Regions from separate parts of the Homo sapiens genome. Here region 1 is linked to region 2. A link means that fine-mapping ties the variant in region 2 to the expression of a gene that starts in the linked region. Tissue or cell type: thyroid. Region 2 holds a variant in brackets; the other region holds the start of a gene. All regions are shown on one strand. Distances are between the middles of the regions.

Region 1 (8,101 bases), 120 kb after region 2:
TCTGAAATAAACCGATTTGATGGGATGCCCAAGGCCCCTCACAGCACCGGCATTTGGGGGCTTCGATGGCTGACTGCCCTCTGCCACCCGGTGGGCTCTCTGGAAGGGGGTGACTGACCTTCTGCAGCAAGAGAGAGCCTGAGTATTTGGTCACAGTGTTATACAGGTCCCCGCCGAAGGTGTCAGCCCATAGCTTCACTCTGCCAGGCAATGAAAGGACACGCGTATACACACACGTACACGCACAAATACAGAAACACACGCGTAGACATATGGGTTCACACACATAGAAAGCCAGTGTCTACACACAGACACCTGCTGATGCATGCATACTCCAACACACAGACACATAATGCATAAGAAATGCACACACACGTACACACACATACATACCCCCCACACACATGCATATGCATACACACACGTGACATATGCCCAGAAACACACAAAAGAGCACCTGTCCCTCCTCCTTGTCCCTAAAGCTACAGCCATGGCCTGGGCAGGAGACGCGGAGAACCCTCAGGACCCAGCGGCTGCACTGCTGTGTGCTGAATGTCCTCGGCAGGTTCTCCTGCTGAGGGTTGTGGGGCCGGGCTGACGAGCCCAGGACTGAGCTTGACCCCAAGCTTCCAGGGCCTCTGGTTGGAGAGTGGCAGACTGAGAGGAGAGAAGGAGGGGAGAGGCAGTGGACAGCCTCAGGCCAGGGCCGGAGGACCCTGAGGACAAAGGACAACCTGCCTGGCCACAGCTGTGGCCTCTCAATAAATCGTTCCCTCCAGTGCACTCCACTCAAAGCCACTGGGGGCTGCCGAACCCTCTGTTGAAACCTCAGAGAACGCGTGAGGCAAGGGCACAGCAGGAAAAGGCTCTGAGCTGCCACTGCTGAGCCTGAGGGCAGGGCAGGCCAGGAGGGCATAAGGAGGCCACACCTCACCCTCTGTGTAGGCAGCCTAGTGGGGAGCCCCGACCTCTCGCCCATGCCCCAGAAATGCACCACAATCCCACCATCTTGGCCAGGCTGGTGGGGTCCTGGGGGCAGGTACACAGGGCTGGGGCTGAGCCTCTCCAGATGGAGCGGAAGTGGTTTGCCTGTGCGATCCTTTCAAGATCAGCAGTCATCACTCAACCAATGTTTATCAAGGTCCTACCATGTGGCAGCCTGGAGCCACCCCACAGTCCCCACCCTTGCAGGGACAGCTTTGTCATGCGGGTAGCATAGTACATGTTTGAAGGTGCCCATGAAGGTTGGGGAGGGGTAGTGGTATAAGGGAAGGCTTCCCTGGGGAGGGAGATCTGAGCTCCAGGTTAGAAGTTTGGTAGAGGTTAGCCTGCAAAGGGGTCTGGGAGAGGATTCTAGGTCGGGAGTACAGAAGAGCTTGGAGGAGTAAAACGTGACTTCCGGGCTTCCAGTGTGGGTTGTTGACCTGATGGTGTTGTTACTGAATACAATTAAGACTATCAGGAAGGGCAGGGGGAATGAGCTGAGGAGGGTGAAAAGTGATGTGTGTACCTTGGGCTCTGCTGAATGTGAGGTTCCCGTTGTAGAGCTACCAAGTACCATTGGGAAGGTTGTGCACTGCACAACTCTAGAAGGCACCAATTGTGTTTTACCTTGAAAGACACAAATCTGAATTTAAAACCTCACATGATGTTTAGGAAAAGCTGCCCATAAGCACTGGGTATGTGTCTAGTAGGTAGAGACAGGGCTGGGAGTCATTGATGCAAAGGTAGGGATTGAAATTCTGAGGGCAGGAGGGCTCTCTCAAGGAGAGTGTGCAGCGTGAGATCTCTGAGCGTCGACAGCTGCTGGGGAGCACCCCCCACCTCCGGGGCAGGCAGAGGAGGAGGAGCACTTGAGGACAGCAGAGATAAGCCGTGCCCATGCAGGCCCAGCGGAGCGCAGTGCCACGGAAGTCAAGGACTGGGATAAAAGAAGACGGGGGCTTGTGTGTCCCAAGCAACAGGGTCTGGGGTGACAAGGCCAGGAATGTCTCCTGGATTGGGCATGAGGAGGGCTTTGGGAACCCTGTGGAAACAGACTTGGGAGGAGGTGGAAGCCCGGCTGGAGGGAAAGACTGAGAAGAGAGGTTCGGCGGGAGTGAGGACAGGTGGGGCCAAGTCCTGGGCAGGCAGATGAGGCTGTGTGCAGGCTGTTGTCTCTGGCAGCACCCAGGGCTTCTGCATAGATGGCCGCTGGGGCCCCCCTCCCTGAAGGCCTGGATTCCAGCCACCCCGACTTGGCCCTCAGCCCACTCCTGGAGTTGGCCCTCTCCTATCAGCTGGTGTGTGTTCTGGGGATGAAAATTGTTCTGAACATCTCCTGCAGCAACAGATAGCGTTACGGGCTGGCGGCGGGTGTAATGGTGAAAGTGCAGTCCAGGCTGACAGGAGTTCAAATCCCAGCACCTTCACTTCCTGGCCTTGTGAACTTGGGGAAGTCACCTGACCTCTCGGGGCCTCTGTTTCCTCAGCTGCAAAATAGGGATAAAAATAAGCCCCCACTGAATGGCTCTGCAAACTAACGGTGTCATTTGTGAAGCGCCCAGCTCCGTGCCAGGCAGGGAACAAGGAGAGCTATGCGGCTCGATGGGAAACGATGCTGCCTAATCCACTGGTCAGCAAAGGCTAAGCACAGGCACGGTGTGTCATTTAGGCTCCCTGTCCCCACTCCTGCTAAGACATGCAGTTGGCAGGTGGCTCTGTTGGTGGCCTGGCTATGGTGCTGGGCTCAAGCGGCTGGAGTAAACAGGATGGGGTCTGTAGCACCTACAGTCTAGAAGGCTCTGCTACCCACATGTATTGGAAATTTCCTTCCTAGGACCACCTGAGCTAGGGCCTAAAACACAGACACCCCAGAGAGGTTGCACAGTAATTTACATGTACACCAAGGTGCACATGACTGATACCGGGTTCTTTCCTGGAGCCGGTCTTAATGGCCGGCTAGAGAATCAAGGTTGGAAGGAGGCAGAAAGGTGTAGAAAGGGAAGACTGCGGCCACCAAAATCCATTTTTTTCCCCAGTTCCTGGACAAGCCACCTCCTGTGCGCATGAGACGTTCTGTGGGTTCAGAACTGCTTCCCCTTTTTGGAATGTCAAAATACGCATTTCCTGCCAAATGCTTCGGGGAGCTGCGATGCTGAGATAACCCGGCTCCTCCAGGCTGCCTCATCTCAGCGATTATCCTGAAGGAGCACCCGCCCTTCAGGTGTCCCAGAAGCTGCTTGTCAGGCCAGGAAGACAGCAGCCCTGATGATCAGTTCTTCCTAAAGCCATCCGGCTCCTGGGGAGAGGCAGGTGGGACTCCAGAACTCACAGAGCTTTTGGGAGGAGAAAGAGGAGGCCGGAGAAGCAAAGGGCTTTACAGCAAGAGAGTGGTCAGTCGCAGCCACTGGGGAAAAGCCCAGAGGGAGGGCAGGGGCGGGAGGAGTGGGCAGAGGATGGAGGCCCAGCCCGGGAAGAAAGTGGGAAAGGGTGACCGGGTTTTTGGGGTGGGGTTGAACGTGATGCTTACGTTTCCAGAGGAATCTTGGCCTGTCCCCACGCAGGGGACAGGGAGGTGCCTAGAAGCAGCAGCCACAGGAGGGCCGAGGTCTTCTGCACAAAGGCCCAGGCCACGGGCATTGGCTGGAGGGGAATCCAGCGGCTGCTGGAGCTGGGGTTTGCGAGGAAGTTGGGAGTTGCAGGCATGGTGGGCCTGGGGTTGGGGAGGGGAAGGAGGGCAGAGCAGCCACAGACCATGAGCTCTGTCTGCCTTCCTCCCAGACCCCAGGACGCCCCAGGCCTTTGTCTTCCGTGCCTTGGCGAGCCTGGGGTCTCCAGCCTCTCAGTCCTGGGTGGGGAGGGCTTCTCTCTGCCCCACAGCTGCAGCTCACAGAAGAGTCGCCCCACCTAGCAAGCAGGCCTCGGAGACAGGGACTGGGGGAGAGGCTGTGGCAACATGAAACCCTTTAATCCGCTGGCCTCTCCTCTAATCCTCTCCTGACAGCAGGGAGGGGGTGGCAGGGGGTGGGGAGCTGCCTCCCAAGATTACCACAACTGCAGCTGGTTCCCTCAGGGCTATAGTGCACCCCTCTGCTTTAAAGAGGCAGCCCCGTTCCTGTGGAACCACCTTCTGGACCCAGGAAGGGCTTGCTGTGACTATGGCCAGAGGACAGCAGCTGAGTTTGCACAGTACTCTGATTGACCCACAAATCTCTTGTTGACCCTGAGGTGGGGGTGTGTCCTCATCCCTGCTTGGCAGAGGCTCTTGAGGCCCGGGGAGTCCCAGGGGCAGAGCTGGGACTCTGGCTGGTGTTTCCAGGCCTGGTGCCTTTGGGACAGGTCATAGGTCATAGGTGAAGTCAGTGGACCCACGCCTCCACATCTCAGCTGCTCGTGGGCGGGGCTGGGGACGCATTTGCTGTGCAACTGATGAAGCTTCAGGACCCCTGAATCCACAGACTCCCCCCTTTCCCGGAGAGGCCCTAGCAATGTGTTCCTGTGGCCAAATGTTTTTGTAAAATATGCAAAAGTTGAGATAGTTTAACCATAACCGGTTGAGACTGTCTGTCTCTTTCCATCCCAACTTCTCTTCCGTCTGAGGGACTCTTAGTTGGATGATGTTTGGGTGGCTGAGGGCACTTGGGGGATCCAGTTAAGAGGAAAGTGAGCTGGGGAAACACTTAATCTGGGCTTAGTGGGATATGCTGACATGGTTCACAGTGACTTCTTTGTACAGAGAAGTTACCTCCAGCTGAGTGTAGGCAGGGCTTCCAGGAACACTCATCCCACAGGACATCCCACCAGCAGATGCAGCAAGAGAGGCTGGGCCGTGATGTGAGCGCACGCTGTCACACCCACCCTGGCCATGTGTGGTGGGGAGGGCAAAGTAACAGTCAGGAGCTCATCTGCAGAAAATCTACAAAAAGCCACACAGGTAACATCGTTGGTGGAGGATTTGGTTCTCACCAAGGCCTGGCCAGGACAGAAGTTCTCTCCTGTTAGGAAAATAGTGGATATTGAAAGAATATAATTACACCGTACATTGCTTTGTGTTCTGATGAGAGTTACACAAATTAGAATTGATCAAAATTCTTGTGTTGTGAGCCCAAACCAGTAGTAGTACCACATGGGTTCTCCGGGGGTGAAGTCATAGATTTTATGCAGTCCCCGTATCAGATTATTTTCTTAGTGTAACTGGTGCACTGTGTCTTCACAAAATCTGGTGGTTCCAGCAAAATGGTAAGCAAAATTGCCACCAACGCAGAGAAATGCTTGCAGAAGCAAGTGTTCTGATGACAAAACTCCTACACAGATTCATCAATAAGTCAGTGCTGTAGTATCAGAGTAATCTGGTGGCACAGTTTTGTGGCTGAATACAATGTATTTTTTAAAGGCATCTAAATGATTCCTATGAATGCCTTAATTTCACATAAATTTTGTACATGTTTTGAGGATTACAAATCAAACACATTTAGAAAAAATACTACAGAGGCACACTGGGCAGTCAATACATAAAAAGAATGTAACTTCTCTAGGTTTTGTGAATTTGGTGGAATTCACCAGCTTCTTAAAATTTGTAATTTGGAATGATTTTTAAAACTGAATAAATATTCACCTTTTTTCAACTTTTTTATTGTGGCCCAATATTTATTGTGGCATAAAATGTGCCATCTTAATCATCTTTTTAAGTGTACGGTTTAGTGTAATTAAATACATTAATCATGTTGCTCCACCTTCGCCGCCATCTATCTCTATAATTCGTTCATCTTGTAAAACTGAAACTCTGAACCCATTAAACACTAGCTCCCGTTCCCTCCTCCCCCAGCCGCTGGCGGCCACCACTCTCCTTTCTGTATCTCTGATGTTGACGGTTCTAGGGACCTCACAGAAGGGAAGTCATCACATAGTTGTCCTTCCATGACTGGCTCATTTCACTTAGCACAATGTCGGTAAGGTTCACCCACGGTGCCGCGTGTGTCAGAATTTCCTTACTTTTTGGGGGTGACCAATGATGGGTTAATATTTCATTGTGTGGATAGACCTCATTTTGTGCATCCGTTCCTCTATCGATGGACCCTGGGGTGGTGTCCTCCTTTTGGCTACTGTGAAATATGCTGCCGTCAACACGGGTGTGCAAATATCTCTCGAGATCCTGCTTTCGATAATAAATATTCACTTTTATTTTTATGTTTGTACCTGGGATTTGCATTATTTTTCTTTTATGGGTAACCACTCCCACATTATACAAGCTCCCACTGCCCCCACGGGGTTCCAGCACCCTGTCCGGAAAGCCTTCGCCTCCCTCTACTGTGTCAAGCGTGACAGCGGCTTGGAAAGCTCCGTCCTTCGCAGACACACTGGCGGCCTGTGTCCTGTGCGCCCCTTAGACATACTTAGGAAGCCTCAAAACCAGGCCTTCTCAGCCCAAGGCCACCGCCGGCCTCCAGGCGGCTGCCTCTGCCCACTTCCCCTTCAGGCTCCAGCGACGGCTTCCTTCCCTGACTGGTGGAGGAGGGGGTACAGCTGGGCTGCATCCTGCGTCCCCTACATCCACCCCTTTCCAAGGAGTCCTTTGGAAACCAGCTTTCCCACCTGTTTCCTGCGGGCCCCTGTCTGGTACCGGGCCTCCCCACCCTGCCTCTCATCATCTATTCTTAATGCAGCAACCGAAGGCTCTTTTCAAACGTAAGTCAGACCCTGTGGCTCCCTCCCTCTGCTCCGAAGCCCCCAGGGCTGCCCATCTCCCTTAGAGGAAAAGCCACAGTTTTGACCACAGCCACGAGGCCCTACCTGGCTGGAGCTGGCTTGATTTTAAAAATCATTCCAAATTACAAATTTTAAGAAGCTGATGAATGCCACCAAATTCACAGCCACGAGGCCCCACCTGGCTGGAGCTGGCTTGATTTTAAAAATCATTCCAAATTACAAATTTTAAGAAGCTGATGAATGCCACCAAATTCACAGCCACGAGGCCCCACCTGGCTGGAGCTGGCTTGATTTTAAAAATCATTCCAAATTACAAATTTTAAGAAGCTGATGAATGCCACCAAATTCACAGCCACGAGGCCCCACCTGGCTGGAGCTGGCTTGATTTTAAAAATCATTCCAAATTACAAATTTTAAGAAGCTGATGAATGCCACCAAATTCACAGCCACGAGGCCCCACCTGGCTGGAGCTGGCTTGATTTTAAAAATCATTCCAAATTACAAATTTTAAGAAGCTGATGAATGCCACCAAATTCACAGCCACGAGGCCCCACCTGGCTGGAGCTGGCTTGATTTTAAAAATCATTCCAAATTACAAATTTTAAGAAGCTGATGAATGCCACCAAATTCACAGCCACGAGGCCCCACCTGGCTGGAGCTGGCTTCTCCTGACCGCGCCTCTCTGGGCGCGGGCTCCCGCTGCTCCTTGGGTGCCTCAGGCGCGCCCCCCATCGGTGCGGCTGACCCCCGAGCTTGCAGTCCGCGCCGCGGCTGTGTCTGCCTGCTTCCCCCTGCGTGGCCGGCCCTCTCATTTCCATCAGTGTCTGGCGTCGGGTTTCCTGCAGGAAGAGCTGGTACCCCTGGATCGGGCAGCTTGAGACGAGTTTAACAGAGAGGCTATTTACAGAGGTGTGGACGGAGTCCTGCAGGGACACTGCAGTGGCCAGGGCTGGAAACCGCGGGAGCTAGCCCCTAAGCCTCGGGGAGGGGGACGGGGACGGGGACGGGAAAGCCACTGTACCCTGGAGAGAACAGGCTGTATGGGGGGGACTGTGGCCGCCAGGCAAGGGATGCGGCCAGCCACAGCAGTCCCGTGGGAGGGCTGGGGCCGTGGACACCCACTCACCCTCTGCCTCCCCCGCTCTCCTGCTGGTGCCTCCACCCGGGGAACCTTAGGGACTTATCCGCGTGCCCTCGCTCCCCCCCCAGGACAGCCCCCCAGGGCAGGGAGAGCACTCGGAGGGGCCAGCAGGAGGCGTCCGGCTCAAGGTCTTCAACGCCACCTTTTATGATGAAAGTGTCCTTGAATGAGAGAGTGGTGGGCAGTGACGCACGGCTTTGTGAATAGCCTGTCAAGCACCGAGCTGCAAACTTTAACATGGAGAATTTTACGGCATGTGAATTACTTCTCCAT
Region 2 (8,101 bases):
AGAATGTCCTCAACTCTGGGAGCATCTCTGATGGGGGTTTCTGGTCCCAGCAGACCAGACTGTATGAAGCACCCGGCTCAGGGCCTGACACCTGGGTCTGGGTTCTGGATCCGTACCAGCCACTATGACTATTATCCACGTGACGGCCCCCTCACATTGCTCGATCATTCGGAACTAAGTGTAGCGGGAATGAGGACAAGATGGGAAAACTGCATTCTAATTCACCTAGGGCCCAAGCCCTAGGAAGCGTGGCTCTTCGTTAAAGCACCTTGGGATCCTGGTTGACTTCGTATTTTAATGACACAGGGGCTCTGCTGTGCTTTCACACCAGCACTTCAACAAATGTGAAGGGTTTTTCCCACCCCACTCTCTGGACACCAACTGGGTGTCTGTCCTGAAACTCAATTCAAGTCTGACACTATTGAGAGTTAGCATTAGAGCTCGCAAGTTACAGGGCTCGGTCCCACAAGGTGGCCGTCACTTCAGATGCCAATCGCAAGCCCCAGGTCTCCTGTCCTTCTGACAGACTGGCTGTAAATCTAGGGTTCCCATGAGCCTGTCTCAGGCTCCGTGAGTTGTTAGCGTGGCTCACTCAACTCAGGAAGGTGCTTCCCTCACCATGACCCGTTTATTATAAAGGACGCAGGTCAGGCGGCTGAGTGGAAGAGACACGTAGGCCAAGGCACGGGGTACGCAGAGCTCCCACACCCTTTCACCAATTCGGACACTCTCCAAACACAGTGGCTCGGGGATTTTATGGAGGCCTCATTATGATCATTGATTAAATCTTTGGCCACTGGTGATCAACTCAGTCTCCAGCCCCCTTCCTTTCCCAGAAGCCAGGGGCTTGGAGCCAAAAGTCCCAACCCTCTAATCCTAACTTGGTGTTTCCTGTGGCCAGCTCTCATCCTGTCTAGGGCCCCCAGCCACCAGTCATCTAATTAGCATACAAAGATACCTCTATCATTCCAAGGGTCTTAGAGGCACCTGTGAAGGAACCAGGGACTAAGACCAAACACTATAACAAAAGATGCACCTATCACCCTAATCAGGAAATAACAAGCGTTTTAGGAGCTTGCCAGGAATCAGGACAAAGACTAAATAAAGATCTGTTTCTTATTATATCACAGTGTCACAGGGCATAAACGCGAATGTTTCCCCCGAGAAGCACAGGCACAGGTGTGTTCATTGGCATCCCTATATGCTCCTGTCTGCAGGGGCACAGACCCAGGCACAGAGGGTTTGGGGATGAAAATCCAGCCCACCCTCGATCCGCCTCAACCCGCACCTCTGGATGGAAGGCGTGGCAGGAGTCTGGTCGCCGGCGGAGCTTCTGGGAGCGCATCCGGTCACATTTGACAGAGGCATTATGTGCAGAAGCCACTGTTAAGGTCAATATCTCAGGACCGGAGCCCATTCTGCAGACTGGAAAAAGGTCTGGAAGAACCTGCTCTGGTGCCACCAGTTGCCCTGCAAGCAGCTTTAGGGTCAGGAGGCAGCACCGGGGCCCAGGGAAGGGTTAGAGAACAAATAACGGAGCCCTGTGGAGGACACGGGCGGTGAAGGAGGCTGGCCCCGCTGCTCAAAATCTGAGCCCTACAGACACCTCCTACAGCCCCCGCCCCCACCGCACACATCCCCGAGCATTGCAGGATATATTTGACTTCTGTCGCCTCCTGCAGCACTGGTGGGAAGATGCTGCAGTCACAGGTGGGGTCTGTCACCAGGAGGAGGAGGTTACTGTTGGGAATCTGCTGCACCACAAATACCCTGCAGCAAAGAAAGGGAGTCGAGGATGGCTCCGTGGCGACCACGAGAAGGGCTTCTAGGGAAGGAACTTCTGGAGACTTTAGTGTGGAGTTAGGGTGGCAGGGAAGCCCGGAACCATGAGGCAGGGCGGGTCGGGGCAGCTAAGGGAACGGGCCTGGCAGATGGCTCAGTCCTACTGGCTTTGCTCACAAGCCTTTGCTGCTGCATTTCCTTTCCTAGCAGACTGGAGACAGTGAGGAAGTCCAAACTGGGCCGCTTTGGAGAGTGCAGAGTTGCTATTAATATATGCAGGGACGACAGGCGTAAATCAAGACCGTCCGGAGCAAATGGGCGGGCGAGGCAACACTTGCTCTGGGTGAGGGTGGCGGGGGCAGGCCCGGGCGAAGCGGCAGCGCTGGAGCTTGGCCACCAGGTGGCGCAGTGGCCCCGCGCTCGGCGAGGCCGCCCTGCGAGGAGTGGCGCGGAGTGGGGCGGAGCCCGCCCGCCAGGCCCACGGCCTTCCCAGCAGTCCCAGCGGCCGCCTACCGAGCGCCTCCCCTGGGATGGGCGGTCTCACACACCCAACGTGCACACCACAGCCGTGTATACTCTCAGCCTTCACGGCTCTGTATGAGGCTGGTGTTGTGCCCATTTTGCAGATGAGAGAATGGAGACTAGAGGAGGCGAAGTCACTTGCCCACGGTCATAAGCGGGGGAGCGCAGAGCCAGTTTTCAATTCAGGAGTGTCTACTCTGAAGCCCTCGCTTCACTCCGGAGCCCGCTGGCTCTATCCTCGCACCGAGCCTTTGCGACAAGTGCACAGGGAACGCTAACCCCAGCCCTCAACGCTGCACAGAACCCGGGGTGAAACCCGCGCAGCACGACGCGCAGGGAGTGGGGGAGAAGGGAGCCCCGATGCCAGCGCCGCAGGTGCCGCACTGTTAAATGGTGTGCCACGGGCCCGGGGGTCTAGGGACCGCCTGGCGAGCGGCACGTCTGGCTGAGGCGACCCTCGAGGAGGCCGCCGCATTCCCAGCGTGGGGGTCCTCCCGGGCTTGGGTGCGGGGGGTCAGCAGGAGAGACCCTTCCGCGCGGCCTCCCTGCCTCCCCGGGGCCAGGGCGGGTTATAACTAGCGGCTTCCACACAGCAGGAAGCCTGACAGAGGCTGCCCGCGGGGCTCCCAGCGACCCGAGGACATCGCACACTTCCGGCCTTCTCTTCTCACACTCCCTCTGCCTTCCAAGTTCTCCCCACGCAGCTCAGGCGCGGGCACTGGCACCGCCCTGGGCACCGCCTGAGCAGGGCTGGGGGAGACCCGCCGAAGGGCCCACTCGCCCAGAGACGCCGTGGGGTCACGGCTGCGGCCTCGGCGGGGTGGGCTCGACACACAGGGTCAGGCCTCGGGACCACCTCTCCCCATCCCGGCTGTCCCGGTCCCCAGCCGTCCTGCCCGCCTCAGACCGTCCGCCTCCTGCGTGTCTCCTCCACTGAGGACGGCGGGGGAAGACCCCGGGAGCGTGGGCTCTGCACTTAGACGCATCCCCTCCTCCCGGCTGTGGAGCCGTTTCCCGGGGGTTCCGGGGCCCTGCCCGCACTTCCGCCTTGCCGAGGGCGGGAGGAGTGTGGCGGGACGGGCGGCGCCGCCCTGCGGTCTTACTTCTGGCAGGGCCCGCACTCCACGATCCCGTTGGCCTCCCGGATGGCCGGCTGGTACACGAACACGGGGTACTCCGTGTCGCAGGGCTGCAGCGGGTCCTGCTTCTTGTGTTTGTGGGCTGCGGGCGGAGAAAGGACATCACGCCACCGAAGGGGCCTCTGGCCTGCGGTGACCTCGCCT[C/T]GGCACTCCCAGGGCCAGAGTTCACCCCAGTGCATTTGCAGAGGGTCCCTCCTCAGGCAGTTCTCAGGACACGCGTGGGAGGAGCCGGGCGGGGGGTGAGGGGAGGGAAGACACCCGGAGTCTCTGGAGAGGGTGGCTTGGCACGGGGAGCGCCGCAGGGGCCCTGAGCCTCGGTGGAGGGAAAGCGCTTCCTCTGGGGAGCCTGGCCCTCACTGAGCTGGGGGCAGTGCACCATCTCCAGGGCCCCTTCCAGCACTCAGATCCCGGGGGAGGGTCTGAGCGGGGAGCAGAGGCAGTAGGGGCACCAAGGGGTGGCTTGGGGGTACTTAGGCCCACCACCCCTCCCTTCACTGTGGACAGACGCAGTGCAGTTCCTGGGCAATCCTGCCCTGCTCTCCCGCACAGCCAGGCCCACACTCCACCCATTGAGCCTGAGCGCCTGCGGTGGGGGCAGCCGGGCAGGTGGGCTCCAGGCCTGGGGCTGCGGAAGCCCAGAAGCCACAGCCACCCGGTGCGGGACTCCTCGGGGGCTGCGCGATTTGCCTTAGCTCCCTGGGACAAGGACAGTGGACTCAACCAAAGGTGGAGGCGAGTGCCTCAGCCCCGCTCTGCAGGACCCGAGTCCGTTCCCTCCCGGAGCCTCCTGAGGTGGGCACATGGCAGAGCAGGGCCCTGCCACACAGGCTGTCTGCATGGCCCTTCTGTTCTCAGGGCCTGGCTGTGGCCCCCAGGGATAGACCTAGAGGCAGGGAGCACAGGTGTGAGCTACCTTCCCAGGCTCATGCAGAGTCCTACAGGAGAGCATGGGTCTCCCCAGCTTCCAAATCCAGAAGCTCCCAGCCAGAGCTGGAAACCCAGAGGGGACACTAGCTGGCGTGCAGAAAACTCTCACCGAGAGGAGCAAGCCCACAGCGGCCAGGGCTGTGAGTTTTGTCCCCAGGGCTGGGCACAGAAGCCTGCCTGACAATGGCAGGGTTGAGTGGCGTCCCCAGGGTCACGCAGTGGAAGGGGCTGCAGCACCTACGCCCCGGCCTGGGACTCCAAGTCCAGTGCGCCTTCACTGGGGACACTGACATCTGTGTAGGCCAGACCAGGGGGAGGAGCTCCAGGGGACAGGTACCCCAGAGAAGAGAAATTCTGAGCAGGCAGATTGAGGGGGATCATCTTCAACTTTTGCAAGATGCAGCTGCTGACAGAGACAGAGGGGACAGTGTCCTGTCACTGACACCTAGTGACTGTGAACACCCCAGAGCAGCCCCACCCGATCGCGGATGTGAGTCCAGAAGGAGTCTGGAGACACAGCCCGAACTGCCCTGAGCCCAGGGGCAGAGGAAGCCCCAAGCCAAGGCCAGCAGAAGAGAACGAAGAGCAAGCCAGAGAGAGGACCACAGTGGAGATGAAGAGATGGGATAAGCTGGGGACAGCCCAGGTGGTGGGAAGTTCTGGAACCCCATGGCAAAGGTTCTAGGAACACGGAGGAACTGAGCAGAGCCCGCTGAGGCAAGATGGCCTCCTGCAGTCATGGAGGGCCCAGGCGCCCGGGCAGTGAGTGCTTTGAAAGGCCAGGCTCATTGCCGCCCTGCACGTGTGGCCACAGCCACCGGGCTTTGTGTTGGGGCCTCTCATGGTTGCTGCCTCTGGGGGACTCTGTCCTCAGACACAGGGTCCCGCAGGGGAATCATCCTGAGAGCTTCCTGGGGCCCCTGGAACCCGGAGTCCCGCTGAGGGCTGGGGTGCCGCTGTTTGCTTCTCCAAGGGGTGGGCTGGAGGTTGCTCACTCATACTGGCTCATGGCCACCCGGCCACACCACCGGCTTCCTCTTGGAATCTTACGTGTTCTCACCCAAGGGGAGGCTGGAGTTTCTCATTTTCCCTGGGGCCTGACCGTCCTCATGTGGGATGAGAACTGGGCTAGACTCCCCAGTCCCCCAACCCCCAGGAATGGTACTTTAAACCAGGAGAGCTCAGCCCTGCTTGGGGTCATTCCTGGGACAGGTCATGGAGGGTGGGTTCTTTGTAGCTCCTGCTGCGTCCCCAACCCACCGCCAGCAGGGATGGCCTCAGCTGGGCTACTTACAGTGATGGAAGACACTTTTGGCTGGCCGGAACATAAGCCCAGCACAGGGTGGACACGGCACAGGAAAACATGGTGGCACATGAGGGCAGGATGTCATGGGGTGGTGATGATGGCACATGGAGTGGCGGTGTCCCAAGATGATGTCACACACAGAGCCAGGAGTGAGGGATGTGATGAGAGAAGGCCACGCAGGGTGAGATGTGAACAACGATGCTTCAGGGTCACCTATCCCCACTGTCACCCACCCCACAGGGAATGGTCTCACGTTAGTGGACCAAAATGCCACTGCTCTTCAGCACATGGCCCTGCAGCTCCGTGCACTCACCCTCGGCCCCTCTGTCGTACCAGGAGCCCCAGACACTCCACTCCAGCAGGAACCTGTCAGACACAGGACTGAATCTCGGAGACCTCTGAGCCCTCCCGACTTGGGTTCCCAAGGAGCTGGAGTATCCCTGACAGCCCCCGGCCCATCCCCTCTCCTCCAGGACACCCTCTTCCCTGCTTGAGGGCTCTGGTTGAGCAATGAGGTCCCTCCCAGGGGCAGCATGCAGGGAAGAGGTGGCGTCCATGCCCAGGGATTGTGCCCTCCTTCCCCGGGGTCTGGTAGCAAGTGGGTTGTCCTGGAGACCTTGCAGCCTCCTGCTCAAGGACACCCTCCTAAGCCACCCTCGCATGCAGCCCTCCACCAGCCCCGTGTCTACCCCCACTCACAGCACCAGCTCCTGCAGCAGCCACCTGGTCGCCGTCAAGAAGGCAGAAATTGGCTGGGAAGGAGAGAGTGCACACCGCTCGCACCTAGGTCCAAGGGTGAGGGTGCCCCCCCCCCACCACCAGCACCACCCTCAGAGAGACCAGAGAGTGGGCTGCCCTGCCACTGGGAGCAGGGGCAGCAGAGCACAGGCCAGCAGCCCAGCACCCCCCATCCCCCCACCTCCCACCTGCCCTGCAGAGCTGAGCTAGCTGGGAAATGCCTATTGCAGGTCAGACATCTCGGGTGGGGTTGGACATGCCCCTCCAGGAGACGAGTCAAGCCCTCATCCTGGTGCTGCACTGCTGAGGATCCCTGGTGATCAAGCGGCAGTGTCAGGGGCTGAGGCTGGGGCAGGCTGCTCTCTCTGTCTCCGCCAGAGGCACTGTTGTGTCACAACTACCAGAGCAGTCCCTCTGAAGCCCCAAAGCCAGACCCAGAGGCCTGCCTGGGAGTGGGACTGAGAGCAGTGGCTCTGAGCAGAAGATGGAGATGGTCAAGGTAGGGCCCTGGGGCCAGACACCCAAGGTGGGTGAGAACAGGGACCAGTGACCTCATTCCAGGACAGGGCAGAGGACTGGCTGGCTGGCTGGCAGAGGGAAGGGCTGGGTGACACTCACGCTGACCAGGGGCTGGGCTGCACTGTGGTGGTGACTCGAGGGTTTGCACATGGCCTGATAGTCATACATAGTCACTCTGAAAATCAGAAGCGGGCTGTGATGAGTCCAAAGCCACCCCCACCCCCTGCCCCTGCCTCAGGAGGCTTTACTAGCAGAGCATCCGTTTACCGCAATTCCCAAGGGCGCCTGAGCTAGGACAGCAGATCAGAATACAGCTCATGCTGAAAATTACATTTCTGCACTTGGAATGGTTTAAAGACAATGAAGAGCAAATGGCTTTTGCCCTCGGAGTTGGACGGTTTTCCCTCTAGGGTCTGAGCTGCGGAGCCCCTCCCAGGGATGCCCACATGCCCTTACGCCCTCCCCACATCATGCTGACGCCCTGGCTCCATAAAGGTTGCTTTTGCAGCTCTTTGGGGGCACCCACTGTGGGTTTTGGAGGTCAGGATCCTGAGATCCGCCAGGACCACTTAGCGTCAGCTCTCGGTTTGCTGTGTCTATTTGGACTGGGGAGGAGTGTGCCCCACTTACTGGCTGAACACCCCCATGCTGAGCAGCTGGGTCAGGACAGCACCATCCACCTCCCCCAGAAATCTTCCCGTCTGTGAGAGAGGGACAGCAGAGAGAGAGGGAGGGAGAGAGATGGAGCAGGATGGAGCCTTCCGAGTCCAGCACTATTTATTCAGCTCAGGTCGAGGCTTTTGGTGCCAGTTGGGCTTTCCCTCTGACTGCCTCTCAGCATAATCCAGCTGAACCCTTCCACCCACGCCCCTGTCCGGTCCTGGCTCCCTCCTCACCGTCCAGCCTGGTGCTTCCTCAACTGGAAGGAGTCACCCGCTAGCTGACTATGAGACCAACGTAGAGGCTGCAATGTGATTTTTTTAATGGTACAGAATTCCTTGGAACAATTCTGTGTGAATCACTTGCAGCAAGGTTAAAGAATGTTTTATGAAACTGGATTTGTTTTATATGCTGTGTGTGTGTGTGTGTGTGTGTGTGTGTGTGTGTGTGTGTGTGTTGGGTCAGATATAAAACACGTTTCTGCAGGTCAAGGTCAGAAGCAGCGCCT

Evidence for each region. PIP is the estimated chance that this variant, and not a neighbour inherited with it, causes the effect.
Region 1: it holds the start of CACNA2D4, and the variant in region 2 is fine-mapped to the expression of CACNA2D4 in thyroid (GTEx, PIP above 0.99). The same link has a PIP of 0.9 or more in whole blood.

The regions. Positions count from the first base shown.
Region 1 is chr12:1,914,736-1,922,836 of GRCh38, forward strand. It overlaps CACNA2D4 (calcium voltage-gated channel auxiliary subunit alpha2delta 4), which reads right to left and starts at 3,917. Exons shown (of 38, transcript NM_172364.5): 1 at 3,512-3,917; 2 at 119-200. The coding sequence starts at 3,738. RefSeq lists an enhancer at 1,990-2,566.
Region 2 is chr12:1,794,011-1,802,111 of GRCh38, forward strand. It overlaps CACNA2D4 (calcium voltage-gated channel auxiliary subunit alpha2delta 4), which reads right to left. Exons shown (of 38, transcript NM_172364.5): 30 at 7,564-7,634; 31 at 7,033-7,108; 32 at 6,376-6,428; 33 at 5,990-6,042; 34 at 5,665-5,685; 35 at 3,408-3,525; 36 at 1,658-1,770; 37 at 1,289-1,371. It overlaps LOC105369602 (a long non-coding RNA gene), which reads left to right and starts at 6,429. Exons shown (of 4, transcript XR_931549.3): 1 at 6,429-6,913. RefSeq lists enhancers at 1,537-2,104, 2,216-3,121, 3,122-4,026 and silencers at 2,065-2,394, 2,735-2,864, 2,965-3,194. The variant C/T (reference allele first, on the strand shown) is at 3,588.